7 linked regions of the Homo sapiens genome follow. The protein of the gene in region 6 purifies or fractionates together with the protein of the main gene of each other region. This does not show direct contact. Each region holds a gene or a part of one and is shown on either strand. Other genes may lie near its edges.

Region 1 (3,260 bases), on a different chromosome or scaffold from region 6:
CTCTGATCACTTTGGACATTGCTGGGGGATACATAACAGCTCACTATAACATTACAACACATACTTATATCTGTTTGCTCCTCCAAACTAACATGACAATGTGTTTCTGCCATCTTAGCTTACAGAGACATGATCTAGTTCAGCTTATACTCAGATTTTACAAAAGAGACTTTGACCACATAGATATTCATAAAATTAATGTGGTTAAGAAAAAAGTGCAGGGGCTTGAAGTCAGAAGAGCTCCGTTCCCATTTTGGCTATGCTGCTGTTCAGGTTTGTGACCTGCAGAGCAGTTTAGCATCTCTGGGTCTCAATTTGTTCATCTGTAGAGCGTGGGTGATCAACCTTTATGTAATCCTTCTGTGTTGAGTGGGTCTCAAGATGGAAGCTCACTATGGGAATTTAAAAGCAAACTGTGGCATCGAAACAAACTGGACAATTGCTTGAACTCTAATATCATCATCCATCCTCATAAAGTAACTTGTTGGTCACTAGTCTGACAGTACTGTTAAAAGACATTTATTTGTAACTTTTGAGAAAATAATTTTCAGACTCTGATCTTAGAATAAGCTCATGAGGAGTCTCATTTCCAAGCTGGAGATCATTTCCAGTTTGAATGAACAATTCTTCTTTTTGGCTTGGGTGAACGTGGGGATAGGTGAAAGCTGAGCTGCACATCCTTCAGAGGTCACAATGAAAAGTCAGTCTTTATTCTAGCAGGGCTTGGTCATCTGGAATAGCTGGTACATAGGTGGCAGCTCCATGCCCTATCTCATACTTTAAACAACATCACCAATATCTTTTTCCGAAATAAGCTTGAGTTGTATATGTTTATTATAGGAGAGAAAAGTTTGCCAAGCGTCTTCTATGGACTAAGCACTTGCTAGGTGTTTTACATATATTCTGCCATTTAATCCTCAAGGCAACTTTAACATGTAAGTATTACTGTCCTCATTTTACAGGTGAAGAAATTGAGACCCAGAGTGATTATATGACCTGCCCAAGGTGGTCACGTCGTTAGGCCATGGCAGAGATCTGAAATAAAAGGTCAGGTCTTCTGACTTCAGTCCATGATTTTTTTTTTTTTTTTTCTATAACATCATGCTACCTAGAAGAAAAAGAAATGAAGGTAAGCAGTCAGCCAGGAAAGTCAGGAAAAATGATATGCTACTTGTAAAGAGCTCCCCTATATTGTATCATTCTGAAATGTCCAATTTTCAAAGAGTCAGAGTAGTACAGAAATGTTCAATGTTAAATCACTACTCAACATAAGCAATCTGACTTTGATGGTTCACAAGCTCTTCCAGATCTTGTCGTGCCTTAAAGTTCTCACTAACAATATCAATTATCAGTGCACTACAGATATATAGGAAAAGAAAATCCCAGGTAACAGAAAAGCCAGATCACCTGCCTCCAAGATGCCGGGCACTGCACGGCTTTTATCAGTTTTTATTACATCAGGTCAAGGAAACAAATGGAATCTATCCACATGGTCCTGCCTCGTTGGGCATATATTCTAAACATACATCCATTTTCATACCCAATGAGAAAGAACTCAATTCCAAAGGATCTCACCTTTCACAAAATTCTACCCTTAAGATCCTAAAACAGTCATATCACTGTGCACAAAATTTTTGGCAGTCACAAGCTCTAACACAAAGCAGAGCTTAAAAACAAATGGAGAATATAATCAGTGTTCAAATGCACCCTCACTGGGTGGGTCAGACTGCATGAGGCAGTGTGGCTGTGTGGAGGGAGAGGTCCGGACCTGTGGCAAACTGCTGCTCCTGCCAGGAGGCTACCAAAGCCAAGGCTCTTAACATATTGAGGTTCCTCAGCTGCCCCAGTGCCTATATCTCTAACAACAGTAAACAGTGAAATACCTGCAGGCAACCATGTCTAAATAAAGAGATAAATATTTGAATCTTCAAGAAGTGGCCAACTTCAGAAAGGCATCTCTTGGCACCCTAGAGGAGACTGGGATGAAAGTTGTACCGGAGACTGGAGAAGAGCCCGATGTGTTTCACGAGGTTCGGCTCCACTACATAGGCCCTCTCTCCCTTGGCCCTCAACAGCGAGTACAGTGCCATGTCCTTGCCAAAGCCCTTGTGGCAGTACACTTGGGACAGGTAGGTGAGGGTCCGGCGGGCCGCAGGTGCCGGGAAGAGCATGGCTGGGGTGCAACACTGAGAGGCAGGAACCACACTGTACAGGGAAGGACTCAGCCGCCGCAGTTCCAGGAAATAGTGCCGACCCACCAGCTCCACCAGACCCATGCTATACAGGGAGAAGAAGAGCATTACAGGCCAGCTAAACCCTGGGCGGCTGGCAAACCTCATGTATATCCAGGTTAGTAAGGGCCCCAGCAACATGCCTACACCAACCCATTCCAGGATCCGCATGGGCTCTGGATTGATGTAGTGCTGGAGCCTCTCGGGGTGATACAGCTTGAGATAAAGGGCATCTCTGAGATGTGGCTCAGAGAAGCGAGCCCGCAGAAGGTGCTCCAAGACTGGGAAGATCTGCTCTTCTGGTACAGCATCGTCTTCTACCATCAGGACGTAGTCTGGGTTGTAGGTCTGCAGGGATGACTCCAGGCAATAGACATAGTCCTGCTTCTCTTTCTCAAACGAGTTGGTCGAAGGGTCATCACCATAATCATCCTCAGTGCCCTCATAGCGATTGGCCACAGGGACATACTTGGAGAGCAACTTGGCATCAAAATGGCTCACACTACGCTCCACGTTGCACAGGAAGAGTTGGTGCCCCTCGCACTGGGGGCCACATTGCTGAAGAAGCCGGTGGAACTGGGACACAACCTGCAGGACGTAGTGGAAGCCAGGCTGCCTGTCCACAGTGATGATGGTGATCACCAGCCAGGGCCGGGGGGTGGCCTGCCAGACAATGGGCACTGAGCCATTGGCAGAGGGAAGCTCCTCAAAATAGTGGAGGGCAGCCTCACCCTCTTTCAAGCTTTGCTGCAGGAACTCTTGGCTCATTTGGTTCAGATGCCAATGGCGCAGATAGAAGTAAGAGTGTAGAAGTCGGTGACAGGCCAGGGGGGCCAGCAGGCCAAACGTCACCACTGTTAGGATGAAGAGCTGGACAGCAGTGCTGCCCCAGGAGAGTCGCCGCAGCCTCCGGAGGAGCATGGCAGCTGGAGAGGTTGAAGTGCTCATGAGGTCAACTTTTGTTCATGTCTGGTCCCAAGAAAAAACCATCCTGGAACTCAGGCCAGAGTCATCAGAAATCAAACCTAA
Region 2 (4,508 bases), on a different chromosome or scaffold from region 6:
GTACCACGTGGAAGTTGTATAAATGGGCAATGACGGTGAACAGGTTGTCACACTCTTTCCCTTCGCTTCCGTATTTATAGATGGCATCGAACTTCCTCACCACTGCCTCCAGAAAGTGGGCACCGACCTGAAAGAACCACACAGAAAAAAGATTATGTTATTCCTAGAAACCTTCCTTTCTCCTTCAACACACAGAACTGGCACTTTCTAAATTAACAAAGTGCCACAAGGCAGGGCATTCCAACAAGGCATCCCTCGGCAACCCAGAGCAGCCGGCCAGAGTGCCCCAGCCTGGACGCAAGGGCACCTTCCTCTTGTTAAAATCAACAACCAAGGGGCACTGTTTGGCCAGCAGCCATTCTGACTCCTTGGAAAAATAAAACTGTTAAAAATGATGTTAAAAACACACCTATGTCTCTCAAAATATTCCACTACTGGCCAGGTGCGGTGGCTCACACCTGCAATCCCAGCAATTTAGGAGGCGGAGGTGGGTGGATCACAAGGTCAGGAGATATCAAGACCATCCTGGCTAACACGGTGAAACCCCGTTTCTACTAAAAATACAAAAAAAAATTAGCCAGGTGTGGTGGTGTGCGCCTGTAAACCCAGCACTTTTGGGAGGCTGAGGTGGGTGGATCACAAGATCAGGAGATCGAGACCATCCTGGCTAACGTGGTGAAACCCCGTGTCTACTAAAAATACAAAAAATTAGCCGGGCGTGGTGGCATATGCCTGTAATCCCAGCTGCTTGGGAGGCTGAGGCAAGAGAATCGCTTGAACCCAGGAGATGGAGGTTGCAGTGAGCTGAGATTGCGCCACTGTACTCCAGCCTGGGCGACAGAGCAAGACTCTGTGTAAAAAAAAAAAAAAAGTTCCACTACCTAACAATATTCATTTCTTAAAAGATTTTTTTGCAGATTTTTACCCCAAATTCATTTCTTACAAGGAAGCAATACGAGTGATTTCTAAAACAGATAAACGCAACACATTCTGAATATCAGAGGTTGCCAAATAGACAGGTACTTAATAATCTCTGGAAGGGCTCCAGGTGGCACGGAGGAGACGCCCTACTTTCCCAGGGCTGAGTCTCTGGCACTAAGGTAGCTTGTGAATACACTCACTTGGCTCAGCCAGTGGTTTGAGGGGCACTGGGCCCTGATGGGGACCAGCAGGTAAACCAGACACTGCCCTGAGGGGCGGAAGTGGGGCCAGGAACTGCCGGGCCTGGTGGAGCTAAGCAAGGCCTAAGTGTTCTCCTTGTGCTGTTCTGGTACATTTTATCCCGAATTCCGTAACTGTGGACTGAAGGATGAGAAGACCTGCATGTGGGTCTGTGTGGTCTTCAGCAAGTTCCTGGAACCCTGTTTTTTCACTGTGTAAAAGAGAGATAATAAAACTTGAAGGCAGAAAACAGTCGTTTTCAGTCTTGCTGGCAACACTACCGTGTCATCATTTTCCGTCAAATCTCAACTTAAGCTGGGACTGGAGGGAGAAGGCGGAAGCAGGGACATGGTGGTGACAAAGAGTGACCCCCACAGCCCAGCCAGGAGACGATGGCCTAAATAACGCAGCTGCGCTGGACCAGGGATGAAGGGCCTGGGTAACACAGCAACGCATGGCAGTGTGTGACACCGGCTGTAAAAGCTGAAGGATCTGTGACTCCCAGGTTTCTGGTCTGGGTAACCAGGAACTACGTGAGGGGCAGCAAGCTAGTGGGGCTGGACAAGACCAGCTCAGGGGTTATTAAGCTTCAACAGGGGCCATCCAGACAGGACTGGATGGAGATCTAAGGGTGTCAGTGAAAATCGCAGGCAAGGCTGAGATCCACCAGACAGTCTTGAGTGTATGGGGAAGTACACAGACATCATTGCTGGACTGCAAAGAAATCAACGCTAGAAGAATCCAGAGAAAGGCAACAGACTGGCGGGAGGCCACAGTGACTTCCTGGAGGCCAGCTCTGATGGACTGGATATACACTTCAGTTTGTAAAGACCTGAGACTTAACCAAGCCAACCTGTAGTTTCCATTCAAGCCCCTTCAATGAAGATAAACTGGAAGACACATTCTATTATGGCAACCATGTTATAGTCAAATATAATTTTTAAAAGTAAATTAGAATTCTGCAGACGTCAATAAAAATTTAGGCATAAAACATATTCATGTATATTTTCTTTTTCTTTTTTTTTTTTTTTTTTTTTTTTTTGAGACGGAGTCTCGCTCTGTCGCCCAGGCTGGAGTGCAGTGGTGCGATCTCGGCTCACTGCAAGCTCCGCCTGCTGGGTTCACGCCATCCTCCTGCCTCAGCCTCCCGAGTAGCAGGGACTATAGGCACCTGCCACCATGCCTGGCTAATTTTTTGTATTTTTAGTAGAAACGGGGTTTCACCATGTTAGCCAGGATGGTCTCAATCTCCTGACCTCATGATCCACCCGCCTCGGCCTCCCAAAGTGCTAGGATTACAGGCGTGAGCCACCACACCCGGCTGTATGTTTTCAATTATGTATATTACATCAAAATTTCTCAAAATTCTAAATCTGAAGTTCCATTTAATGTCTTCAAAATAAAATATAACAGCATAACATTTAAGAATATAAGTAAAATTCACGTTGGTAAAGTTATTCAAGCACATCCTGTACGTTAACTCTGATGTGGAAATTTTAACATGAATCTACATAGATTGGGTTTTTGAGTTTTAAAGGACTTACAGAAGCAATTCAGCAGCTGACACCATCGTCTTTAACACAGAATGTTTTTCTCGGTACAGGACTGAAAGCAGCTGAATGGAGCCAGCACCCTGAAAGCTCATCACACGCTGGCAGAAGTTTCTGTGGATGTCATTAACTAAAGTACTGTAATGACTTCCCTTCGGAACAAGTCATTTCATTGTCCTTCATGCAATTAGCAAAGGTTTAAATGAAAGTAGGCCCAATTATCTCATGTTTTCCAATCAAGTAAATTCCTGATGTGCTGTGGGTGGTCACGGTCTGTGGCTTTTCCTGTAACTCACTGAGATACTGCCTATACTAAGATCATTCTGATGATTAAGTCAGCTGAAGCATACCAGTGTCCTCTAGGAGGACAGGGAGGTACCAAGAAAGTCACAGAATGGCCCTGATTATGGTAATCACAGGGCCCAGGAATGGCACCCAGTGATTCCATCACTTTGTAATGACAAGAAAACAGACTCCCACATGCTCATACATGAAAATGAGGACAGCTCTTAGAAATAAAAAATAACAAGAGGGTTCCCAAAGCAGCTGGTGCAGATTTTCATATCTGAGATGACCCATGTAGCTCAGAAGAGTCCCGCACTCAGATGCTCAGGCCTGTGCCCCTCTCTCCAGCCCTCAGCTTCCTAATGCCCCACAGGCCTTTCAAAAAGCTGCCACCATGCAACTACTGCTAGACATGGAAAAATGTGGATCAGAACATTATCTAGCAACAACAAAGAAATCAGCAGTGGTAGGAAAAGCCAGCCAGAGGAAGAACAGAATTAAAACACGAAAATCTCCTTCTGTACATAAATAATGAGCCTTCAATGAGCGCTTATTGTGGGCCAGCTCTTTCCTATGCCTATTACATGAACTAACTCGTTGACCTTAACGACTGGACACAGGAAGACTCGGAGGCACAAGTTCATCTAAGTGACACAGACCGTGCGCGTTACAGCATGTTTTGTACTCAGGCAGCATCTCCACCCACCCCATGCCGCCTTCAGCACAGAAGCCCCAGTGACAAGAAGGCTACTTCATTTTGGCAAATCCGTGCATCTTTTTTTTTTTTTTGAGACTGAGTCTCGCTCTGTCACCCAGGCTGGAGTGCAGTGACGCGATCTCGGCTCACTGCAAACTCCGCCTGCTGGGTTCACGCCATTCTCCTGCCTCAGTCTCCGGAGTAGCTGGGACTTCAGGCGCCCGCCACCATGCCTGGCTAATTTTTTTTTGTATTTTTAGTAGAGACGGGGTTTCACCTTTTTGGCCAGGCTGGTCTCGATCTCCTGACCTCGTGATCCACCCGCCTCGGCCTCCCAAAGTGCTGGGATTACACGAGTGAGCCACCGCGCCCGGCCGGCAAATATGTGCATCTTAAAGCAAGCTTTGGAGAGCCCCACTTGGTAAGACTCTAAATAACTGTTAAGATTATAATTGAGAGAAAGTAATATAAAAATGAAATGAATGTGACTAGCATTGCAGTAGAAAGCATGCTTGCCTAGGAGCCCAGAAAACAAGTTCTGTGTACTTTTAACAAGACGTGATCTTGGGAATTTCACATAGCGCTTCAGCGGCTTTGCCTGCTGCACTGCAAAGCAAGCTTCAGTAAAGGTCTGCCCTGATCTCACCGGGACACTTTAGGATTAAAGGTGAGGAGGAGACGAAAGTATATAAACGTACACCAGGTAATTAGACTTTTAGGGATGCTGTGCTGCTGTGGCCTATTTTTTGGAGTAGAGCTGTCAGAAGGCAAAAAACTAAGAGAACCACCATTAAAAGAGACTATCATTTAAAGAT
Region 3 (4,508 bases), on a different chromosome or scaffold from region 6:
AAATAATGACATGCATTTGCAAGTAAGCTGCCTATAGTAAATATGAGGTATATCTCTTATTTCAGGCACTTTATTTCATATATACACTGTTAAAGCTATTCAATTCAAATCTAAAACATCATTTTGTGACCCCTTTTTCCAGGTAACATTATTTTTATAAAAACATTCTCTAAGGTCAGTTTTTCCTATGCTGCATATTGGATTAAATTACAGAACAAAATGACAATGTATTTTTTTTTTTTTTTTTGAGATGAAGTCTCGCTCTTCTCTCCCTGGCTAGAGTGCAATGGCGCGATCTTGGCTCACTGCAACCTCTGCCTCCTGGGTTCAAGCGATTCTCCTGCCTCAGCCTCCCAAGTAGCTGGGATTACAGGCGCCTGCCACCATGCCCAGCTAATTTTTATACTTTTAGTAGAGACGGGGTTTCACCATGTTGGCCAGGCTGGTCTCTAACTCCTTACCTCAGGTGATCCACCCGCCTCGGCCTCCCAAAGTGCTGGGATTACAGGCGTGAGCCACCGCACCCGGCCATGTATTTTTTACATTGTTGTAAAAAATTTTTTTCTGAAAATGTAAAAATAGGTTATAGAGTAAAAGATACAGATATTAGCATCCTAACCAGTTATAAATACATCATTTTTAAAAACCGCTACAAAACTTCTAAAAAACAAGTTAAAAAAACACATAAAAAGTTAGGATAGTATTTTATAGTACAGGCATAATCATAATGAACAAGTGACATACTGGAACTAATACGACATTAAAAAAACTTATCTTTGAATGCCCTCTCTTTACTCACCACATTAACCATTTAGAATCAAGTAATGAAACTGTTAAAGAAAATACACACTAGAAATTAAAAAAAAAAATCACTTTAGGTTTAAACAAAAACTGATGAAATTTTTACCTGGCCCCAGAGTAATGTTCCCATTCCTAGGAATATTGACCATAGCCACTGTTCTATTGAAAGTTCTGAACAACTGAAAGGTTTTCCACCAAACTGCACAATTATTATCTGGAGGAATAATCAAGAGTAAATTTACTTAAATCTTAAATTTTAAAATTCATATACTTAAAAAAATATCAAATTTATGTCCTCTAAAACAAGGTGAACAACCACTATTCTGATGAATTGTATTATATTAGTCACAACTGAAAATAAGACAACTGAAATAGACCTTTCCTCTTTCCCCTCCAGTCCACTTTGCCTCTTAGAAAAAAAGACAACTGAAATAAAGTAAAATCTCTGCCCAATATTTTTGATGCATGCGTATTTCATGTTTAAATTACGCTTACTAAAAAGTAAAATTCTTATGACCAAGAATAATAATTTTATACTGTTTCCAATATAACCCCAAGCAACTACATTCCCCTGTATTTAGTACAACTCTTCAAATAATCTGTGCCTTTCTCAAAATATAGTACTCTTTTGTAGAAAAGACTGTATGTTACTGGAAAAATGCACAATATTAAAAAAATTCCACATAGCTGTTTATTTCTAGTTAACATTTAGACATACTAAGATAAACACAGACTATATGAGAAGAAAGGCAACTTGGAAAGTTCTATGAAATATGGGCTAACTCAGGTGAGGTGATCTCAGATTTGCTCTCCTTTATGAAAAGAGTGAGGTCTGATGATGAATATAAATTCATAATACAGTGCTTATGTTTTGCTTGTTATTCTAAAAGGCCTAAAATAGTGTGCATGGAAATATTAAGAATTAACTGGGGTTGGGTGTGGTGACTCATACCTGTAATTCTAGCACTTTTGGAGGCTGAGGTGAGAGGACTGCTTGAGCCCAGGAGTTCAAGACCAGCCTAGGCAACATAGCAAGACCCTGTCTTAATTAAAAAATAAATAATTTTTTAAAAAAAGAATCAATTAACAATATTCACCCTCCTGTGAGTCTGACAGGCCTCTCTTTGATATGGCAGTTAACTAGTTCCCAAATATTAAAATCAAAAATAATTTTGGTAGTTAACATTTTAAAACCTTAAAGTTACAATTCCTTTCTTTTTAGCTCTACTTTATTCAAATTCAAGTCATTTTCACTTCTCGGTTCCACTATTTTTTAAGTTAATTTGTGCACTTGTACAGATAGATTTCCAACTGCTTTGTTAGTAGCCCAATTAGATTACAACTGATTTGACAATCAGGTCTGGATTTTAGTAGAGATATAAAACTGAAGTAATTTTCTTTTATAAATCAAGAAAATAATGAGCATGAAGAATTCAATATGTATTTGTACAAGTGATCTTAATTTTTTTTAAAATTTAAACCTGATCTTTTTTTTGGTATAATGTGGGATGTAAAAAGAATACTAAAATGCTGGGAAACAATTAATTGATTGGCTGACTTTGTTTCCTAAGAAATAATATCTTTCACTTTACAGTTGGAAGAAATAAAACTGTTTGTCTAGTTGGTTGTGGCATTTACTTCTAAGAACAGGAGATTCAGTTCCCATATTCTTTAACATATACCTTAAATCACCATGATATTATATATGTCACCAAGGCAACAGTTCCACACATGTTCCACACAAGTGATTGCTAGAACAAGCTGTTTACCTAATGTCTCCCATTTAACAGGCAAATTTGAAACTATCTTTTCCAATTACCCACCTGTACCACAAAAGTGCCTAAAACAATTGTGCAGAAGATGGCATTGTTAAAGATTCCTTCGAATACATTTCTTTCACCATGAATTTTCCGGGCATTTATTTCGTTGAAAAGTTGCATCAGCACAAAGGTATTAAAAACAATAGTATAATGTTCTGAAGGAGGAGCATGCAAAGGAGCATTTCTTCCACTATCAATGTCAAAAAACTTTTCTCCTGAAAGAATGAAAAATGACTATTTTGTAATTATCATACCAAATTAGATTTCAAGGAGGTATACAAATTACAACTTAGCTAGACCTTTTATTTGATCTGAAATGGCAGCATGGAAGGAGCTAGAGAAACCTGGGATTATCTAGTACAACTCTCTTGTTTTATAGGCAAGGAAACAGAAGCTCCCAAAACTATGGTGATAATCTCAGGATCACATATCTAAATTAGTGGAGAGCCAGGGTAAGACATCAGGACTGTTTATTCTCCTGTTTATTCTACTATCTAGCTTATTGTCCTCCCAAATTTACTAAGCACTCACTGATTAAGAAGAAATTAAAGATAAATGGGAAGTCAGGAGTAGAATTTAGGCTCTTGAAAATTTGTAACATTATAACATCTTGGATGATTAGCTTGGAAAAGAAACAATTAACTGAAGCTTTATTAGACACTGAATTCTTACCAGCAAATAAGAGTGTAAAGACTACTACAAGTTGATAGAATGCATGACCCAAAATATTCTTCATCATTGTACGTGAGATGAGAGGCTTATTTCTACCATAAGGTTTCCGAAGCAAGAGAGACTCAGTGGGTGGTTCCGTTGCCAGAGCCAGGGAAGCGAGTGTATCCATTATGAGGTTTACCCACAGCATCTGCACAGCCTTAAGCGGTGAGTCCTAGAAAAGATATGTTTCCTAATAGACATTCACAACTACTCAGGGGCTCAGCAATTCTCAGGAAACCTTTAGGGTTTAAAAACTTGAGAAACAGAACAGGATTATATTTTTATATTAACTAACCTAAAATATTAAGCTTCAGCTTAAATATTAAGTATTTTTTAAGAGGCATTTAATATACTTTTTAAATTTAAAGTAAACAAGTTTTGATAGACAAGTCATCACCTACTTGAGTAATGCAGGCGCCCGTAAAAGCAACAATCACTGCTACTACATTAACAGTAAGTTGGAACTGAAGGAATTTTGAGATGCTGTCATAGACATTTCGTCCCCACATAACTGCTTTAACAATGCTTGTAAAGTTGTCATCTGTGAGAATAATATCGGATGCTTCTTTAGCTACATCAGTTCCAGCAATACCCTGTTAAAAAAAATTTTGTGAATTAGACTAAATGTTTTAAGTATAACTTTCAAATAGTCAAAAAATACACACTTAATAAACAAAAAGTTTACCATTATACCTAATAAATATTACTTAAATTTACACTAAAAGAAGGTAACAGAGTTATTCTAAGATATTACTAGGAAAGACATTCTGGTTTAGCAGAAATCAAACAAAGAATGAAGTATTAAAAATAAGGTTCAAGTTGGGTTAAAAATGGAGGAATGAACAAAGACATTACCCAAGTTCCTTCCAAAAGCCACACAAAAAGGTATCTGTTAATAAAAAGCAAACAAACTCTATGAAGACAAAGTTAGAGGAAAAGGAGATTCTACCAAAAAACAAACAAACAAACAAAAAACCCATAAAACCTTAGAGGCTAGAAAGCAGACAGCCAAATGGTAAGTAACTCAGCAGACACAAGAAAGCTGAATCCTAATCCAAGTGTAGAGAAAGTAGAAGTAGCCCCCTTTCCCCCCAACAACAGAACCCCCCTGTCAGCTCCAGACTTGGCAGATTTACGTGGCACTGGAAGTAGGGGTGAAGGTAGGAATAAAAA
Region 4 (4,508 bases), on a different chromosome or scaffold from region 6:
TGGATTTTGTGGATTTTGAGGATGTAGGGCAGCATTGCTAAACTATTTCATCCGCTGTCTGTTTTTGTAAATAAATTTTCTTTTTTTTTCTTTTTTTTTTTTTTTTTGAGATGAAGTCTTGCTCTTGTCACCCAGGCTGGAGTGCAAAGGTGCGATCTCAGCTCACTGCAATCTCCGCCTCCTGGGTTCAAGAGAATCTCCTGCCTCAGCCTCCCAAGGAGCTGGGATTACAAGCACCTGCCACCACACCCAGCTAATTTTGTATTTTTAGTATAGATGGGGTTTCACCATGTTGGCCAGGCTGGTCTTGAACTCCTGACCTCAGGCGGTCCACCTGCCTCAGCCTCCCAAAGTGTTGGGATTACAGGCGTGAGCCACTGTGCCAAGCCTGTACATACAATTTTATTGAAACACAGACACATACACATTTATTCTTGTTCTGTCACCCAGGCTGGAGTGCAGTGGCACGATCTCAGTTCACTGCAACCTCTGCCTCCCAGATTCAAGCGATTCTCCTGCCTTAGCCTCCCAAGTAGGTAGGACTACAGGCATGTGCCACCACACCTGGCTCACTTTTTAAAAATTTCTTGTATTTTTAGTGCAGATGGGGTTTCACCATGTTGGCCAGGCTGGTCTCAAACACCTGACCTCAGAAAATCTACCTGCCTCGGCCTCCCAAAGTGCTGGGAGTACAGGCATGAGCCACCATGGCCAGCCTGTCACACTACTTTTTAATGACAGAGTTATTGTGATAGAAATCATACGTACCGTGGGCTGGGCACAGTGGCTCACACCTGTAATCCTAGCACTCGGGGAGGCCGAGGTGGGTGGATCACCTGAAGTCAGGAGCTTGAGACCAGCCTGGCCAACATGATGAAACCCCATCTCTACTAAAAGTACAAAAATTAGCCAGGCATGGTGGTAGGTGCCTATAATCCCACCTACTCGGGAGGCTGAGGCAGGAGAACGCTTGGACTCTGGGGGGCGGAGGTTGCAGTGAGCCAAGATCGCACCACTTCACTCCAGCCTGGGCAACACAGCGAGACTCTGTCTCAAAAAAAAAAAAAAAAGAAAAGAAAGAAATTGTATGGCCTGCCGAGCTTAAAGTACTGGTCCTTTTGCACAAAAAGTTGGCTGACTCCTGGTCTAGGGCAGTGGTTCTCAACAAGGAGGGTGATTTTGCTGCCTGTAGGACATTCAGCAATGCCTGGAGACATTTTTGGTTGTTACCGTTGGGGGATGGGTGCTCTGGCATCTAGTGGGTAGAGGCCAGGATGCTGCTAAGCACCCTGCAATGCACAGGACGACCTCACACAACAAAGAGTACTAGGCCCAAAATGTCCACATTGTCAAGATTGAGAAACCCTGCTCTAGGGCAGTTTCCTGATTTCACACATGATCTTGTAGAATATACAGGAAGTGCTTAAAGAAGAAAGTAAGGCCAAGCGCAGTGGCTCGTGCCTGTAATCTCAGCACTTTGGGAGGCTGAAGCGGGCAGATCATGAGGTCAGGAGTTCGAGACCAGCCTAAACAACATGGAGAAACCCCGTCTCTACTAAAAATACAAAAATTAGCTGGGCATGGTGGCACGCACCTGTAATCCCAGCTACTTGGGAGGCTGAGGCAGGACAATCGTTTGCACCCAGGAAGCAGAGGTTGCAGTGAGCCGAGATGACACCACTGCACTCCAGCCTGGGAGACAGAGCGAGACTTCATCTCAAAAAAAAAAAAAAAAAAAAGAAAGTAAAAGTCATTCAGTCTTCCCACCCAGAAATTGTTACTACTCAAGTTTTTAATGTATTTTCCTTTGCTTTGTTTGGGTCGGTTTGTTTGTTTGTTTGTTTGTTTTGAGACAGAGTCTTGCTCTGTTGCCCAAGCTGGAGTGCAGTGGTGCGATCTTGGCTCACTGCAACCTCCACCTCCCAGGTTTTCAAGCAATTCTGCCTCAGCCTCCTGAGTAGCTTCGTCTACAGGCGTGTACCATCACCCCTCGCTAATTTTTTTATTTTTAGTAGAGACAAGTTTTCGCCATGTTGGCCAGGCAGGTCTCGGACTCCTGACCTCAAGTGATCCACCCGCCTTGGCCTCCCAAAGTGCTGGGATTACAGGTGTGAGCCACCATGTCTGGCTGCATTTTTTTCTGTGTAAAAATAGTATTGTATTTCTACTCTGTTGGAATTAATGTGCACATATTAGTAACTTAAAGTTTTTCCTGATATTAAAAAGGAAAAATTTGTTCTATTTTCAATAGAAATATATGCCCATCAAAGAAAATACAGATGAACCCCCAAAATGAGGGTCATTACCATCATTAATGTTACCTATAAACCCTGGCATTATTCTTAAGGCTGATGTTATGTATTCCCTTTGTCCTGGTAATACTACACGCAGGTATCTGTCCTGAGAAGATAGACAAGTGCGTACTGATTTATGTTCCTAGCAAAGACGTGCCTGACAGTATTGGCTTATACTGGCAAAAACTGTAACACATCTAGTATCTTTCTCATTAGGGTTCCAGTTAAATTAGTTATGGTAAAGCCCTACTTTTGGCCAGATGCAGCAGCTTACGCCTGTAATCCCAACACTCTGAGAGTCTGAGGCAGAAGGATTGTGTGAGGCCAAGAGTTCAAGAACAGCCTGGGCAACATAGCAAGACCCTGTCTCTATAAAAATTTTTTTTTTTTTTTTTTAGTTAGCCAGGTGTGGTAGGCTCACCTGTAGTTCCAGCTACTTGGGAGACTGAGGAAAGAGGATTTCTTGAGCCCAGAAGTTCAAGGCCAGCCTGGGCAACAGAGTGAGACCTCCGTCTCTACAAAAATATTTTTTAAGTCCCACTTTGGGATATGATGTAGGCATTATAAAGAAAGAAAGAAACCACTAGGTAGGGACAGACAAGTTTAGCAGATGGTGAGTCGAACAGACACGGTTTATATCCCAACTCCGCCGCTCCACAGTTCGTGGCTTGGGGCAGGTTTTGTTTAATTTCCCAGGGTCTGCTCCTCATCTTAAAATGGGCAAGTTTTGTGAGGATTAAATGAAAAAGTCATGTGAAGTGCTCATTACAGACTACCACATAGTACTTGCTCAGTAAATGTTACCAGCTTTATTGTCAAGTAAACAAGGTTACAGAATGCTATATATATAGTATATTCCTCCCTATGGTTTTTTTTTTTTTTTTTTGAGACAGAGTCTCGCTCCGTCACCCAGGCTGTTGTGCAATAGCACGATCTCGGCTCACTGCAAGCTCCACCTCCCGGGTTCACTCCATTCTCCTGCCTCAGCCTCCCGAGTAGCTGGGACTACAGGTGCCTGCCACCACTCCCGGCTAATTTTTTGTATTTTTAGTAGAGACGGGGTTTCACCATGTTAGCCAGGATGGTCTCAATCTCCTGACCTCATGATCTGCCCGCCTCAGCCTCCCAAAGTGCTGGGATTACAGGTGTGAGCCACTGCACCCAGCCCCTGTTTATGTTTTACAAAGTGGGCATGTGGCTGGGTGCAGTGTTGCACACCTGTAATCCCAGCACTTTGGGAGGCCGAGGCACATGGATCGCTCAAACTTAGGAATTCGAGACCAGTCTGGGCAACATGGTGAAACCCTACGTCTACAAAAAGTTAGGTGGGTGTGGTGGCATGCACGCCTGTAGTCTGCTTCTTGGGAGGCTGAGGTAGGAGGATCGCGTGAGCCTGGGAGGTCAAGGCTGCAGTGAGCCCAGATTGCGCCACTGTATTCCAGCCTAGGCCACAAAGTGAGACCCTGTCTCAAACAAAACAAACAAACAAAAAAAATTGGGCATGTGTTTAAAGAAGTATAAAAAAGTAACAAGAAACAGAGGCTATCTCTGGGGGAGTAAGAGTATGGAGAGACGTTTGCTTTCTGTTTATTATAGGTTCATTTGAGTATTTTAGAATGAACAAGTATGATTTAATTCATGGAGATGGGGGGAAGTCACCCATATTCCTGTCCTCATCATTGGGCTTTTGGTTTGGTTTGGTAAATAAGGCTGTTGGCCAGGAGGGTGCTGGGCTCACACTCTGTCCCTCTGTCACACTGCAGCCATGGACCTGGCTCAGGCAGGCAGCACAGTGGAATCTAAGATCTACGACACACTCCAGTGGCAGGTAAGGGTCAGCTGGGGGAGGGCGTGGGGAGAAGCACACAGGGGCACAGGTGGCTGCGTGTCACCTTCCTTTATTGTCCCCTCCTTCTCCAGATGTGGACACTCCTGCCTGGGTTCTGCACAAGGCCTACAGATGTGGCCATCTCCTTCAAAGGGCTGGCACGGACGCTGGGCATGGCCATCAGCGAGCGTCCAGACCTGAGGGTCACCGTGTGCCAGGCCCTGCGCACCCTCATCACCAAGGGCTGCCAGGCAGGTACGTGTGGGCTGTGGGAGTGGGGGCTGGGGAGGATGACACAGGTCCCTGGCCCCATCCCCTGGCTTGCTACACTCCTTGCCAGGCAGAGCCACAGAAACTCACCTCTGGAGCTCATCCTTTGCTGCTTC
Region 5 (4,508 bases), on a different chromosome or scaffold from region 6:
AGGTTCTCCACCCGGCTCACAGGAACACAGCCCACCCTCACTGAGGGTCCTGCAGCTCCACCCACTCTACAGCACAGCGGGCACCACACAAGCTGCGGGCGCACTGCGGGGCACGCACTGCGGGGCACACTCTGGAAGATGCACACTGCGGGGCACACTGCAGGGCACACGCCCGCCGGTAGCCTGCCTGCAGCTTTACCACTCTAGGAACCACACAGACAAGCACGAACAACATAGGTTAAATTGATCAATTTTAACCCAAGATAGCCACATTTTATTCAGTCTGCAGATAATCATATTTAAAACTTAAAACATTTAAGTTTCCAATTTGCCTGAAGTCAGACCCCACTGGCTGAGTGGATTCCTCGCTGGGACCCACAGGCCAGCCGCTTGGCACATGCCATCTCATTCCCCACCAGCACCCCAACGAGGGGGCCGCAGGAAATCTGGGGGGCTGCCCATGTGTGAGGCAAGAGGACAGCGTGAGGTGAGGCCAGCCCTGGATAATGCAGTTCTGCCTGAGCCCACCCTCCCAGGCCCCAGCCCCACTTTCCCAGGCCCCAGCCCCACTCTCAATGATCCCACTCGTCTACAGGCGGGCAGGGTTGGGGCACCCATCCCTCCTTCAAAGCTAACCCCTGTCCGGGTAACTCTCCATGCCAACAGCTGCCATCCTCCCTCCTAACGCCCCCCTCCTCTTCCAGAGCAAGCGGTAGCACAGAGGGGCAAAGGCTGAGGGCACAGCCATGAGCCCAGGGAACCCACCTGGAGAACGGGGCCGCCACTGTCCCTGTCGTCACCTGCCTGCTCCTCACCAGCCTCAGGTTCAGCCCTGCAGATGGAGCCTGGAACAAAAGGGACCCCGTGAACCCTACCTGTGCCCAACGTGTGCTGGCCCCAAACATCCAGGAATGGAGAGCCCGCTCCGTGCACCCTGGTCGGAGCACGGGCACAGGCGGGAAACACCCGGGAACGGACAGCCCACCCTGCACCCTGGTCAGAACATGGGCACAGGCGGGAAAGCCCACAGCTCAAGGCAGATACTAGGTGCCATGTGACCTCTAATCTCGTATGGACAGGATGAGAGGTGCCACCTCAGGCCTGCAAAGGAAAAAAAGATGTCCCAGGGCACAGGTGCCTACACAGCCCTGAGTGGCTGACTACAAGCTGGCATCTTGGGCAACAAAGGCCATGTCAAAAGTTCTGGAAGTGAGGAGCCTCAGGGTGGCCTGGTCCAGAAGCTGTGGGAGCTGATGTTTCGGCTGGGTGCTCGAGCTAGGCTGGGCATTTGGGGCTTTGATGGCACTGTCTGCAGAAGAAAGGTTTTTGGGCAACAGGCAGCTGTGGGGCAGCATGTGACAAGGGTCTGCTCTGTAGCTGGCAGCAGGGGGCCAGCAGCAGGCACTAGCGGACCTGCCAGGCACCTCAGCTACTGAGAGAGAAGGGCAAGGCAGAGACCAGGGAGAAGCATACAGGGTGGCCGGGCCAAGTGCTGGGGGCGGTGGGGAGGGGGTCTTCTGATTAGGAAGCCAAGGGGAACAGTGGCCACAGCACTGATTTGGGGCATACTGGGGTCCTGAGCGTGGTCAAAGACATGCCCTCCACAGCACCAGGATGCCACACTTAGAGCTCAGACCACCCAGCAGGCTCGGACAATGAGTGCAGCATCAAAACAAAAAATGGGCCAGGCTGGACCCCACGGCTGCCCACAGAGGCCTCTGGCAGGCAGTGAGGGGCAGGTGAGTACACCTGCCCCTCACACACACTGCACACAGAGCAGTCAGGTGCCCTGAGGTCTCAGGCCTGAACCCAGTCATGGTCAATATGGACAGAGCTTGCTGTCCTCTGGGGAGACGGGCCAGGAACGAGGAACACGAGGAGCAAGTGATTCACATCCCGTGCCACAGAGTGACGCTATGGGGAGGACTGCGTTGGGGGCTGGGAGAGGCCAGGAGGCTGAAAGAGTCCAGCCCCAGAGAGTGATGGGGGGAGAGACGGTGGGAGGGACGGAGAGACTCGGCACCAAGGCAGGAACGAGTCTAGGGGGCCAACTGAGCCAGAGGCATGCGTTAGACCGAGGAGCCCAGGGGTCCGGAGAGGGCGTGGAGCACATCAGAGGCTGGGGGATGAGGGGAAACGACGTGTGCTTGGTGCCCACAGAAGTCACTCTGGCTTCTATGCTGAGGATGGACTGTGGAGAGGGGCAGAGACAAGGGGACCAGGTAGGAGGTGGCAGGAGCAACCCAGCAGGAGATCGCACTGGCTCAGCCCAGGACAGGCCCCGAGGAGAAGCCAGGCGCAGTGTGACCCCCACCTGCGGGCGGCTTCTCAGACCTCTTCTGGGACAGCGCGTCTCCACGCTCACCACCCTCAGAGGACTCATCACTGTCCGACGCCACCTCCTCATCCTGTGTGTCCAGTTCATTCAGGAGGTCTTCAATGGCAAGCGGGGCCTGCTCCACAATCGTCTCAAAGATGCCTCGAGTGATGTTGTTCAAAACCAAGGAACTGAGGGGCAGAGCAGAGGCCGGTGAGCAGGCCCGTTATGCTGGATTCCCAAGCGGAAGCCGCCGACTCCCCTGCAACCTCTCCCCACCCACACGGCCAGCGGCCACTCTGAGACAGATTCATCCCTCGAGGGAGCAGCACCCCCACAACAGCAGCCCCATGGAAGAACTCAGTGAAGGAGTCGGGCCCGATCAGGCCACCCACCACTTACTCCTTGGTCCGGGCAGCAATTCTGCAGAAGGGGTCGATGAACTTCAGGTTCTGGTCTGCCGTAAGCTACGGGGAAAGCCAGCGGGAGCTCAGTTCCTCCTCCACAAACGCCCAGCTCCACCGCCCCGTCGGAGCCCAGCCTCACCTCCTCGGCGCCCACTTTGGTCAGCTCCTCCAGGAAGATCTCGATGAAGTGGCTCTTCACACCGTTGGGGGCCTGGCTGCTGGGGTGCAGGATCTCAGTCATCAGCAGCTCTAGCAGCTCCTCGATCTGTCTGAGGAAAGAAAAAGCAAACATGACAGGCAGCCTCGATGAGCCCCAAGACAGCCGTGCCCCCCACTCTCCCATGGTTACACGCTCTGATGGGAACCTAAGTGCGGGCAGGCGCCACTGTCTGCAAACATGCCAGCCTTAAAGTCCACGCAGATGATATCAACGATCCTAGGTCTCCTCCAGCGCAAGGCAGTCTTGCAGTTAGGGAGTTATGTGACCAGCACCACCACCAGAACGTATGGCCTGAGTGTGCATGTCAGCTACAAAATGCAGCACGTGTAAACATTCAGACAGGCCTTCCCTCTGTCCTCAAGATTGCTAGCAGAGAGAAAGGCTTGGCTGAGACGAGACGCCCTGCCTGGTGTTCCTCTCCACTGCCTCCACTGGGTACCGCTGGGGAAGACACGTCAGGACAGCACAGGCAGAGAAAGGAAGGTGGAGGCCCAGAAAGGGGCCGAGGACCATGAGCCACCTGCTGGCTTCCTGGGCCCTGCCGCACGACGCATTCCAACTGTGACGTCCACCAGAGCTCTCCCTGGCAGGCGGGTTTGATGGCATCACAGGCCCTGGATCTGAAGACTAGACAGCCCCAGAGAATAATGTGTAGCACCTACATGCATCTGGACCTCCTGGGGTGCTTAATAACGCAGCTGCCTAACTCAGATCTGTAAACTGTGTGATCCTTAGGAAGCTCCGTAGCAAGGCTGGAGAATCACTCGTGATGGAAAGGAAAAGTGATGCTCTCTAAGGCTCAGGAAAAACGAGACAGAGGCAAGAACAGGTGCTGAGACCAAGAGGAAGACACACAGATGCAAGGGACCGACTTCCCAGGCCAGTGGCAATGGCGTGGATATTAATGACAGCCTGGTTATGCCTGCAGGAGATCCAAGAGGGCGGGAAGAGCGGACCCCACTGTCAGCACTGGGACCGCAGCAGGCATTGGGGGAAGGCACCGAGGTCTTCCACATGATTCCTGTGCTGAATTCTCAGTTACAGGGAGAAAAGTACTCTTGTAATAATATGCCAAAAAAAGTTAACACAAGTAAAATCATCCCTTTAACATTTAATTCAGCTTAAGCCATGAGACCCCTATGGGGTAATCCACAATGCTAAGGCCCAGAATGAATGAGACTCCTGGCATCAGAGTCCTGCCAGGGAATAGAAGAATGAAAATCCCTCCAAACCAGAGGCACCGCTGCCCTAAATGCAAAATCACCCATGCAACTCAAACCTAGAGAAACTCAGCAGCCACAGTTCAATTCCTGCTGATTCTTTAAAAAAAAAAAACAAAAAACCAGAATCTCACTCTATCACCTAGGCTAGAGTGCAGTGGCTCAGTCACAGATCACTGCAGCCTCAAACTCCTGGGCTCAAGAGATCCCCTTAACCCACCATAACCAGCCTGCTAATTCTTTTCTATGCATTTATCTAATTTTTGTACTTTTAGTAGAGACACGGTTTCACCATGGTGGCCAGGATGGTCTCGATCTCTTGACCTTGTGATCTGCCCGCCTCG
Region 6 (4,508 bases):
GAAAAATGAAAAAAAAGGAAGTGTGAGGATGATCAGGGTCTTGACAGTGAAGATGGTAGTAAGGATAAGGATGATGGTGTTGGTATCTACACTGAAGACACAAACATTGGCAATGCGGATGACAGTGGCATTAAAGGAGAGGATGATGGGGATGATGTTTCCAATGAAGGCTGTTAGGATACAATGTAAATAATTCCACATTACCCTGTTACTAACCATCACAGCGTCTTAGGAAATCGGCCAAACTCGCTCCCTCCTCATTAGCTGACATCCAAAGGAGGAAGGTTCTGAATGACCTTGCATAGGTCCCATGGCTTCCTTTTGCCCCTCGCCTTCCTAAATTAACTGTCTACTTATGCCAAGCAAATCTGTCTCCAGACCTTGCAGCCAGTTACAGCTCCTGTCAATAGGATCTAAATGAAAAAGGTGAAGAACATGCTTTCCCCAGTCTGGCATATTGCTAGAGGTTTGTAAGTTGTCAGGAGCCGAGAAGTGTGGTGGTTTTCATTACCTATCGCTGCCTAACAAACCACACCAGAGCTTAGTGATTTAAATGACCTTTTTATCTCCTCTCCCAGTTCTGAGTGACTGGGCTCAGTCGGGCCGTTCTGCTTCTCGTGATGGCACTGGGGTTGCAGTCATTTGGGACCTGGAAAGGGCTAGAACTTCTGAGTCTGCTCACTTACATGGCTGGCAGTCAATGTGGGCTGTTGGCTGTGAGCTCAGATGGGACTGTGTGGACCAGAGCACCTTGGTTCCCATTCGTGTGGTCTTACCATGTGGCTTGAACTTCTCACAGCGTCGTGTGAGGGTTCCAAGAGGAGGGAGCTTTCCAAGAATGAATGTTCCGGGGAGGAAGAAAGCAGAAGTTATGGGTCTTCTTAAGGTCCTTAAGAGGCGTTGAAGTCCCAGACCACCACTTCTGCTTCATTCTAACAGGTCAAAGCTGTCACAAGGCCAGCAGGGAAACAATGGCAGTGAAAGTAAACTCCACCTGTTGGTGGCAAAATGGCAGCACACGCTGGGAAGGGTGGAGTTGACAGTGGCTGTCTTTGGAGATGACTACACTAATATTGTCCCTTTTGGAATCTCAAAGGACAGTGCAAGGCTCTTGGACAAAAAGAGGTCAGAAAGCTCTCAGGACAAAGGGCAAAGGGCAAAGGGTAAAGGCTGCAGCAGTGATTGATCAATCTTGTCGCCTACTGATATTCCCTCTACCCCCACCTCTCCACTCTCTATGCCTTGTCATGGAGGGAGAGGGTTGCCATGTTGACTGTTGAGGAGGATGGACTTGAGACAGCAAGGGGGGGGAATTTTGGTGTATCAAATCTGTGACAGCGTCTCTCTCTGAGTCAGGCTTGGACTGGGACTCCCCTGGTTCCCGTGGCAAATTGATGCTACGAGCCAAAAAATCCCTTCAGACTGTTTTCCACAGTCTCTGGTCTTACTTCCCTCAGGACTCAGAGGGGCCACAGCTCTAGAGCGGAATGAGTCTTGGCTAGGCACTTTTGCAGCAAAAGAGAGGATAGAATAATATTGGCAGTAGTGGTGCCAACATTGAAAAAGAGTGATGGTGATGTGAATGGAAACCCCGTGGAGAGGACGATTTTGCTGACAGCAGTCACCTTACTAAAGGTGATGATAGTAAGGATGCTGGCCTTGGCGATGGTGGTGATGATGGCGAAGGTGGTGCTAACAGCGGGGTGGAGGAGATGAGGGTACTGATTTCAGAGACGTGCTGATACTGGGAGGAGGATTAAATTAGGGGGTGATGGTAGAAGTGAAAACGTTGGCTGAGGTGGTGGGGAAGATTATGGCTGCTGCGTTTGTTTGTTTGCTTGTTTTTTGAGAGGGAGTCTGGCTCTGTTGCCCAGGCTGAAGTGCAGTGGCACAGTCTTGGCTCACTGCAACATCCGTCTCCCAGGTTCAAGCAATTCTCCTGTCTCAGCCTCCCAAATAACTGGGACTACAGGTGCACGCCAAAACAGCCTGGCTAATTTTTGTATTTTTAGTAGGGACGGAGTTTCATCATCTTGGCCAGGCTGGTCTTGAACTCCTGACCTCAGGTGATCCACCCGCCTCAGCCTCCCAAAGTGCTGGGATTACAGGCATAAGCCACCAAGCCCAGCCTTGACTGTTGTTTTATCTGCTGCCTCTGGGGTCTCACAGAGACCGTCAATGTGCCCGCGTGCTGGCCGACGAGAGGTCTCCCCAGCCAGGGGCTTCCCCGCAAGAGGACATCGCCAACTTCCAGGTGCTGGTGAAGATCTTGCCCGTCATGGTGACCCTGGTGCCCTACTGGATGGTCTACTTCCAGGTGAGCATACCTGCCCTTTTTCTCTGGGGGCCTGGCTCCCCACTCACCATCTGAATGGCCTCATTTCTCATCACAGAGGCCCAGGGCATGTGGAAAGGGGGAAAGTCTGGGAATAAAGTGAGGTGCTGCCCCGTACCAGCTAGCATGGGGCCTGGCACAAAGCCGTCTCAGCAATCCAACTCCCTCGGTGGTACGGCAAGAGGAACTCTGGAGACAGCTTCCTCCTGCTATACCTCCTGCGGGAGTTGAATTACTGGGATGGCTTTGTGCCAGGCTAGGTCCTTGAATAAGTCACCTCATCTCTCTGGGCCTGTTTCCTCATGTGTACAATGGGTGGCTTAAACGAGAGGCTTTTCCAGCTCTGCTGCATTCAGATTGTCCGACTTGGTAGCTGAGGCCTAGAGAGGGTGTGTCAGTTGCCCAAGGCCCCACGGCAGGCAGGTCAGGGGCAAGCTCACAAAAGTGAGTACTTTGCAACAGTGGTTCCCCAGCCTGGCTGTGCTTCAGAATCACCGGCAGAGCTTTTAAAAATATGCTGTTTTAAAAACAGATTCCAAGTCCAACCACAGGCTATTGAATCAGAATTGCTGGGGAAGTTTCTAGTTTAAGAAACTTTTCAGATGATACAGATACTCAGAGTTGAGAACTATTGTCTTCCACTCACCATATTACTCCTCAGTGGGGAGGTTAGTGATGTGTTTGTGTGTGTGTGTGTGTGTGTGTGTGTGTGTGTGTGTGTGTGTGTGTGTGATAGGAGGGTGGGCAGCAGCTTAATGCTAGCCCCCAGGCCATAAGGTCATTGCCTTCCATACCCCCTTCACAGGAACATTTGTTGGAGCTCCCAGCCTGCTACTTAGGGGCACACAGTATTTCTATGATGAGATGGCGGCATGTGGTGGGAGGGTGTCCATGGCTGATTCTCAGTCATACCAATCAGATACTGACTTCCTTCCATACCAGTTGGTAAATGGCTGCTGCCCTGAGCAGTCCACATGCTCTCCCCTGCCCCAGCCCTTCCTGTGGGAGTCTCCTGGATCCTACTCCATTATATAGCAACTAAAGGGGCAGTGCGTGGTATTGGAGGTGGCCCCTGGGCCCTGCTCCTGCAGCTGTGTCCAGAGCCATTCTGGCAAGTCCATGTCTATGCAGTGCTTGTGTCAACCTGTGGACTCAGCTTGGCTTCAGTGTCAGATGAGAACTCCCTGTGGGGGCAGCCATTATCTTTCCCATTTCAGCAAACATTTATCCATGCTTACCCTGTGCTGGGCCCTGGGGACACAAATACTAGTCAGACCAGCTGTGCCTGGGCTCTGGGATAAGGCTGCACGCACTGCCTACAGGCCTGAGAGCAGAGCACAGGAAGCTCCCTGCCCAGCCCAGCTACCTAGGAGAAAGGAGGGTGGGAAGGTGACTATCTCCCTGAGACTGGGAGAGGGGACAGCTGCCCAGCTGTCCTGTGGTACGGCGCTGAGGAATGCCACCTAGGAGTTGGGAGGGGGCATGGCCGTTTCTGTTCCAGCCTCACCCCTGTCTCTCTTGGCAGATGCAGTCCACCTATGTCCTGCAGGGTCTTCACCTCCACATCCCAAACATTTTCCCAGCCAACCCGGCCAACATCTCTGTGGCCCTGAGAGCCCAGGGCAGCAGCTACACGGTGAGAGATAAAGCATGTGTTCGGCACCCAGTTCAGCCAGGTAGCGGCTTCCTCTGAGAAGAGGAGGAAATGAAACTGCCTTCACACTCCCCTTTCCTGCCTGCAAGGCAACCTCAGGATACAGGAAAAGCACCTGGAGGGTGGGAGGACTTGTGTCACAGCGCAGGGATCCTGCCAAGATGCTCAACTGCTTGAAGGAATTCAGGCCAGCTGCACACCCCCATGCTGCTGCTCTGAAGCAGGTCTCGCTGCCTAATTTGCACCCTCAGATCAAGCATACTTAGGTCCCTTTTCAACTCTTCCTTGTCCCCTCTTTCTCTGGGACCCTTAGATACCTAGATCTCTGCCTTTCCCAGAACTTTCTAAACCAGTTCCTTGGCATTTCAGACTCATGAAATGAATGATCTGCAGAGCTGGCAGATATATGAGAAATTTGCCATTGTAGTCCATTTCCTTGCCCATGGCAGACATCACTAGTCAATCATGACTTTTTTTATGCTGAGCCCATAAATGTTCCATAATCAGCCACTACCAATT
Region 7 (4,508 bases), on a different chromosome or scaffold from region 6:
TTCAACAAGAATATTATATATCTATATAGCAAGAATCCTTTGGAATATCATGGTTCAGTGCTGACTACCTGGGGTATGCACATCAAATATTCCATTGTGGCAGCTGAGAAAAATGAGGGGCTCTCCGCTGCAAAGCAGAATGTAAAAAACAATGGAATGGCAGGCAGAAGCTGGGGGTAGAGGTGGGGCTGAACCAAGCAGTGTTCATAAACATTGATTCATAGAATAAAGGCATCAGAAGCACCTGAGTTATTTGTTAAAACTGCAGATTCCTGGTCCTCCTGCCAGGCTTGATGAATAAAAAGCTCCAGCTGTGGGACGGTTATTCAAAATTTTCCATAGGTACTATTGGTAATATAAATACACAATCAGATTTGGGTAACTGTTGGTCTAGATGATTTCTAAGAGTTTTTTCAGCTGCCAAATTCTCAAGGTGAGTTGAAGGATTAATTAAGTGCAAAAGAGGCTTAACTGTAGAGCACAGGCTCTGAATCTGAATACCCTAATTGACCTGGGTAAACTTCCTTGGTCTTGTTACGTCTCTCCTTCTTATCTTTAAAAAGAGGATAGTAATAGTACCTGTCTTATAGAGTTGATTGTGAAGATGATGCATGTGAGATAATGTATGTAAATAACTAAAACAGTTTTCAACCCGTAAGTGCTCAATAAATGTTGCTCACTAGTACTATTACACCACCACCACTGCATTTCTGGAATGCCAGTGCACAGTTGCAGAAATCCTATTTGTGAACAACATGACCATGACTGAAATTGCTGGCCAGGATCTTTTTCTGGGATCCTAACAGGCTTACATGACAACCATTTCTTAGCTTTTTTACGCGCTCAGTTCTCATTGAGCTAGTTATCTCATCAAGGGACTCAATCCTCTATATATGCATAAGTGTACATAAATTAGTCCTTATGAAGCACTCCTAGTTTAAGGTTTGCAATTTTTTCATGTATTTGTTACGTTGCCCTTTAAGGTAAAATTTGTAGTTTAAGAAGCTAAGAGGCTTTTTAAAAGCAAGAATAATATGCTTATAGTGCCACTTTAATCAATTTATTTTAATTTTGGTGTGATTTTAAAAACCTTTCTCAAGAAAAAGCCCATGGGCCAGGTGCAGTGGCTCGCGCCTGTAATCCCAGCACTTTGGGAGGCCAAGGAGGGCAAATCCAGTCAAGAGTTCAAGACTAGCCTGGGCAACATGGCAAAACCCCATCTCTACTAAAAATATTTAAAAAATTAGCTGGACATGGTGGTACATGCCTGTAATCCCAGCTACTCAGGTGGCCTAAGCATGAGAATCGCTTGAACCCAGGAGGTAGAGGCTGCAGTGAGCTGAGAACGCGCCACTGCACTCCAGTCTGGGCGACAGAGCGAGACTCTGTTTCAAAAAAAGAAGCCTATGATTTAAATTATTCATAGAATAAAGTTGGAACATTCCAACAGACCAACATAAAAGGCTGAAGTGACTGTGCACATCTCTCAGTCTAGATATGTTGATTCCAATCTTGACTACGTTTAGACTAGAATCCAAATAGCCTGATTTCAAGTATAAAGCTTCTTTCACTAGAATATATTATTTGAATATGTCTTCAGTTTTGTCTTTACCCGATAATAATACAAGCATGCATTAGTGAAAATACATACCAAATTAATTTCTTCTGGATTGAAATCCTCAGCCAGGAAAGCAGTCCTAGTTAAAACTTCATGGCGCTTTGTTTCATGAATCTGGTCCAGTTTAGTCCCTATTACCAACAGTGGTATTTGGTTATCAGCAAACTGTTCTTGATCATAATCCCTGTGATAAATAATAATGAAGAGGTGAATAGAATGTATCTTTCTGGTGTAGATGTGTAATATTTAAGTGCAACTAAGTTACACTATTTTACTGAAAATTAACTGATTTTTGCTGCCTTCACCTACAAACCTACTTTCCTTCCAACTTCTTCCATCTACTTGTTCTTTTATCAATCCATCCTCATCATCAGATTCCAGCTATTCATCTAACTTCTCAAAATTTGGTCCCATGTTTTTATTGAATATTGAACAATACTGAATAATTGAACAACTAAGTGCCCATCAAGTATATTACAGTCAGTGGACTTAACTTCCAATGTAGCTGTGTCTTCTAAGGTTAACATAACAGCTCAGGAATATTTCAGAGTAGAAGCAGAGAGTGGATTTAAGCCTCATCGTAGCAAAAACCCAAAAGCCTAGCATGGCACTCAAGCCTTGTGCTAGAAGAGAAAATGGCAAGCTTCTTGGGTACCTTTTGGGGTATGCATTAATTCTATATCTACAATACACATTTCTGTCTGAATAGTAAAGAAATAAGAAGAATAAGAAAATAGAAATAGGGAAGCTGAAGCCTAGAATAAATCAAATATAGGTGATACTATAGCCTGGGAAAGGTGGATTAAACACATGGAAATGGAAGGAAACAGCTGAAATGCAAAATGAATAGTAAAAGGAAAGAACTTAGTACCAAGTAGTTGTTTCCTGAAATGAGAGCCATGGGAGATAGAGGACGGGCAATAAGAACCACTTAGGGTTAGTGGCCTTGGATCACTGGCTATTACAATCCTTATTTTTTAAAAAATTTATTTATCCAAAGAACAGAGTGGTGATGTAAATGATACTTCTCATTACTGAAAAGAACACAGAGGCCATTGCTGTTGAATTAATTTAAATTCTACTCACATATTAGAAATAAAACAGATTTGGATTTCTGACACGTTATAAGCTCAACTTACAACAGTCAGCAAAATCTGGTTGTGCACAATTTATGACAGTAAATCAATATTGCATAATCCAATCACTACAACCCAGTCGAGCATAGCTTTTTTTCTTCCTTTAACACTACTTTTCTTTCTCTTACAGAAATTCTAAATTGGGGTAGGGGGCAAAGTTACTAAGTATTTATGCCCTTCACAATAATCTTACAGCGCCTCAGCAAACTGTTCAGCCTCGGAACACAAGTGTTTTACTATACAACCTCCCATCTCACAAAAATATTACCATTCTATTTATTGCATCAAAGCCAATAATAGCATGATCAAGACCTTTGATTATTCATATCAACAGCAACTCTAATTAAAGAGACATGGTTCAAAGCTACAATTCGCTTTGTTAGGGAATGAAGTTTTGAGAGTGTCTTTCCTTTAGGACTGTTTCCTTCTGTCTCACATACAAAGTTTTGCATATCTTCTATCAAATATCATCTTTGATGTACATACATCTCTCATATAGTCTTGCACAATTCCTTGCACACTGACACATATAAAGCATACATATATAGTTTGCTCTCTTATTTCTCTTTTTAGCTTTCCTTTTAACTTTTTCATAAAATCTTGCAGCATCCAATTTAAAATTTAATCTTGAAATCTTCTTTGGTAAACTTCTGAAGAACTTTATCATGGATGGATAAGGCTGATAGCTCCTTAACATCACAAAGAGACACACAGCCAGGTATCATATTATATGCATAATACTGGGTGGAAAAATAAAGACAAAAAAACTTGCATCTTTCAGACCACTATATTTAATTATCACTTCAGAGAAGATTTAGAATTCAGAGAAACAAGTTTAAAAGACAATACAGGGAGACAATCAGCAAATCCAGAATATAGGAAACTGTACAAGACAAACAGCCATCTTCTTCTACAAATAAAGTGCTAGGAGGTTGGAAAAAAAACAACCAAAAAGGGAGAACCTAAGATTAAAAGATACTTAAGAAACCAAATACAACCAGTGGACCTTATTTAGATACTATTTCGAAAAAATCAATTATAACATTTATGAGACAATTGGGGAAATTAAAATAATATTTGGTTATTAAAGAATTATTATTAAAGTTTTAGCTGTGATAATTATATGGTGTCATGTTAAAAAAAAGCCCTTATGTTTTAAAGTATATATGGATGAAATGATATGATGTTTTAACATTTGGTTCAAAATAATCCAGTTGAGAGTGGGAGAAGATAGAAAGTGGGTAGAGATATGGATGAAACAAGACTAGCTATATGTTGATAATTGTTGAAACTAGGCAACGGGTATATGGGAGTTCATTTTCCATTCTTTGTATTTACATATGTTTAAAATTTTCTATAATAAAAAGTTAAAAAAAGTTATTGTGGTAAAAACTACATAATATAAAATTTACCTAAATTGTTTAAATATGGCTAAAAACTCAAACTGATATAAAAGATATATGCTAAGCAGTCTTGCTCCTACCACTGTACCCATCCACCCATCTCCCCTGGCCCCCTATAGGTTACCATTTTTATTAGTTTCTTATTTTTCACTGATTCTTTATCCAAATATAAATACATATTATTTCTTTTCTTTCTTATACAATAGGAGGTATACGATATATATTCTCTGCATTTTGATTTGTTAAACCTAATAATGTACCCTCTGTAGATCTTTCTATTTTAGTTCATAGAGATCTTCCTGATTCTTTTTTAAACATTGAATACTACTCCAGTATGTGGATATGCCATTA

What was found.
Region 1: the proteins of SLC15A3 (region 6) and PGAP4 purify together in Homo sapiens (affinity purification with mass spectrometry; 2 studies listed by BioGRID and IntAct, with this or other methods). This does not show direct contact.
Region 2: the proteins of SLC15A3 (region 6) and NOM1 purify together in Homo sapiens (affinity purification with mass spectrometry; 2 studies listed by BioGRID and IntAct, with this or other methods). This does not show direct contact.
Region 3: the proteins of SLC15A3 (region 6) and ATP2B1 purify together in Homo sapiens (affinity purification with mass spectrometry; 2 studies listed by BioGRID and IntAct, with this or other methods). This does not show direct contact.
Region 4: the proteins of SLC15A3 (region 6) and RRP12 purify together in Homo sapiens (affinity purification with mass spectrometry; 2 studies listed by BioGRID and IntAct, with this or other methods). This does not show direct contact.
Region 5: the proteins of SLC15A3 (region 6) and RRP1 purify together in Homo sapiens (affinity purification with mass spectrometry; 2 studies listed by BioGRID and IntAct, with this or other methods). This does not show direct contact.
Region 7: the proteins of SLC15A3 (region 6) and RABL3 purify together in Homo sapiens (affinity purification with mass spectrometry; 2 studies listed by BioGRID and IntAct, with this or other methods). This does not show direct contact.

Annotation. Positions count from the first base shown.
Region 1 is NC_000009.12:101,473,914-101,477,173, forward strand, and holds part of PGAP4 (GPI-N-acetylgalactosamine transferase PGAP4), read right to left. Parts: intron 3,257-3,260; 5' UTR 3,180-3,256; coding exon 1,968-3,179; 3' UTR 1-1,967. UniProt on the Homo sapiens protein: Golgi-resident glycosylphosphatidylinositol (GPI)-N-acetylgalactosamine transferase that catalyzes the N-acetyl-beta-D-galactosamine transfer from an UDP-N-acetyl-alpha-D-galactosamine to the 4-OH-position of the first mannose of the glycosylphosphatidylinositol (GPI) of a GPI-anchored protein (GPI-AP).
Region 2 is NC_000007.14:156,955,470-156,959,977, reverse strand, and holds part of NOM1 (nucleolar MIF4G domain-containing protein 1), read right to left. Parts: intron 1,373-4,508; exon of another isoform or gene 1,122-1,372; intron 128-1,121; coding exon 1-127. UniProt on the Homo sapiens protein: Plays a role in targeting PPP1CA to the nucleolus.
Region 3 is NC_000012.12:89,600,419-89,604,926, forward strand, and holds part of ATP2B1 (plasma membrane calcium-transporting ATPase 1), read right to left. Parts: intron 3,929-4,508; coding exon 3,737-3,928; intron 3,508-3,736; coding exon 3,294-3,507; intron 2,837-3,293; coding exon 2,625-2,836; intron 1,016-2,624; coding exon 908-1,015; intron 1-907. UniProt on the Homo sapiens protein: Catalyzes the hydrolysis of ATP coupled with the transport of calcium from the cytoplasm to the extracellular space thereby maintaining intracellular calcium homeostasis.
Region 4 is NC_000010.11:97,373,444-97,377,951, reverse strand, and holds part of RRP12 (RRP12-like protein), read left to right. Parts: intron 1-4,057; coding exon 4,058-4,122; intron 4,123-4,214; coding exon 4,215-4,377; intron 4,378-4,508.
Region 5 is NC_000021.9:43,795,907-43,800,414, reverse strand, and holds part of RRP1 (ribosomal RNA processing protein 1 homolog A), read right to left. Parts: intron 2,994-4,508; coding exon 2,864-2,993; intron 2,785-2,863; coding exon 2,720-2,784; intron 2,509-2,719; coding exon 2,315-2,508; intron 846-2,314; coding exon 766-845; intron 1-765. UniProt on the Homo sapiens protein: Plays a critical role in the generation of 28S rRNA.
Region 6 is NC_000011.10:60,941,498-60,946,005, reverse strand, and holds part of SLC15A3 (solute carrier family 15 member 3), read left to right. Parts: intron 1-2,169; coding exon 2,170-2,317; intron 2,318-3,860; coding exon 3,861-3,971; intron 3,972-4,508. UniProt on the Homo sapiens protein: Proton-coupled amino-acid transporter that transports free histidine and certain di- and tripeptides, and is involved in innate immune response. Also able to transport carnosine.
Region 7 is NC_000003.12:120,696,772-120,701,279, forward strand, and holds part of RABL3 (rab-like protein 3), read right to left. Parts: intron 1,803-4,508; coding exon 1,652-1,802; intron 1-1,651. UniProt on the Homo sapiens protein: Required for KRAS signaling regulation and modulation of cell proliferation. Regulator of KRAS prenylation, and probably prenylation of other small GTPases. Required for lymphocyte development and function. Not required for myeloid cell development.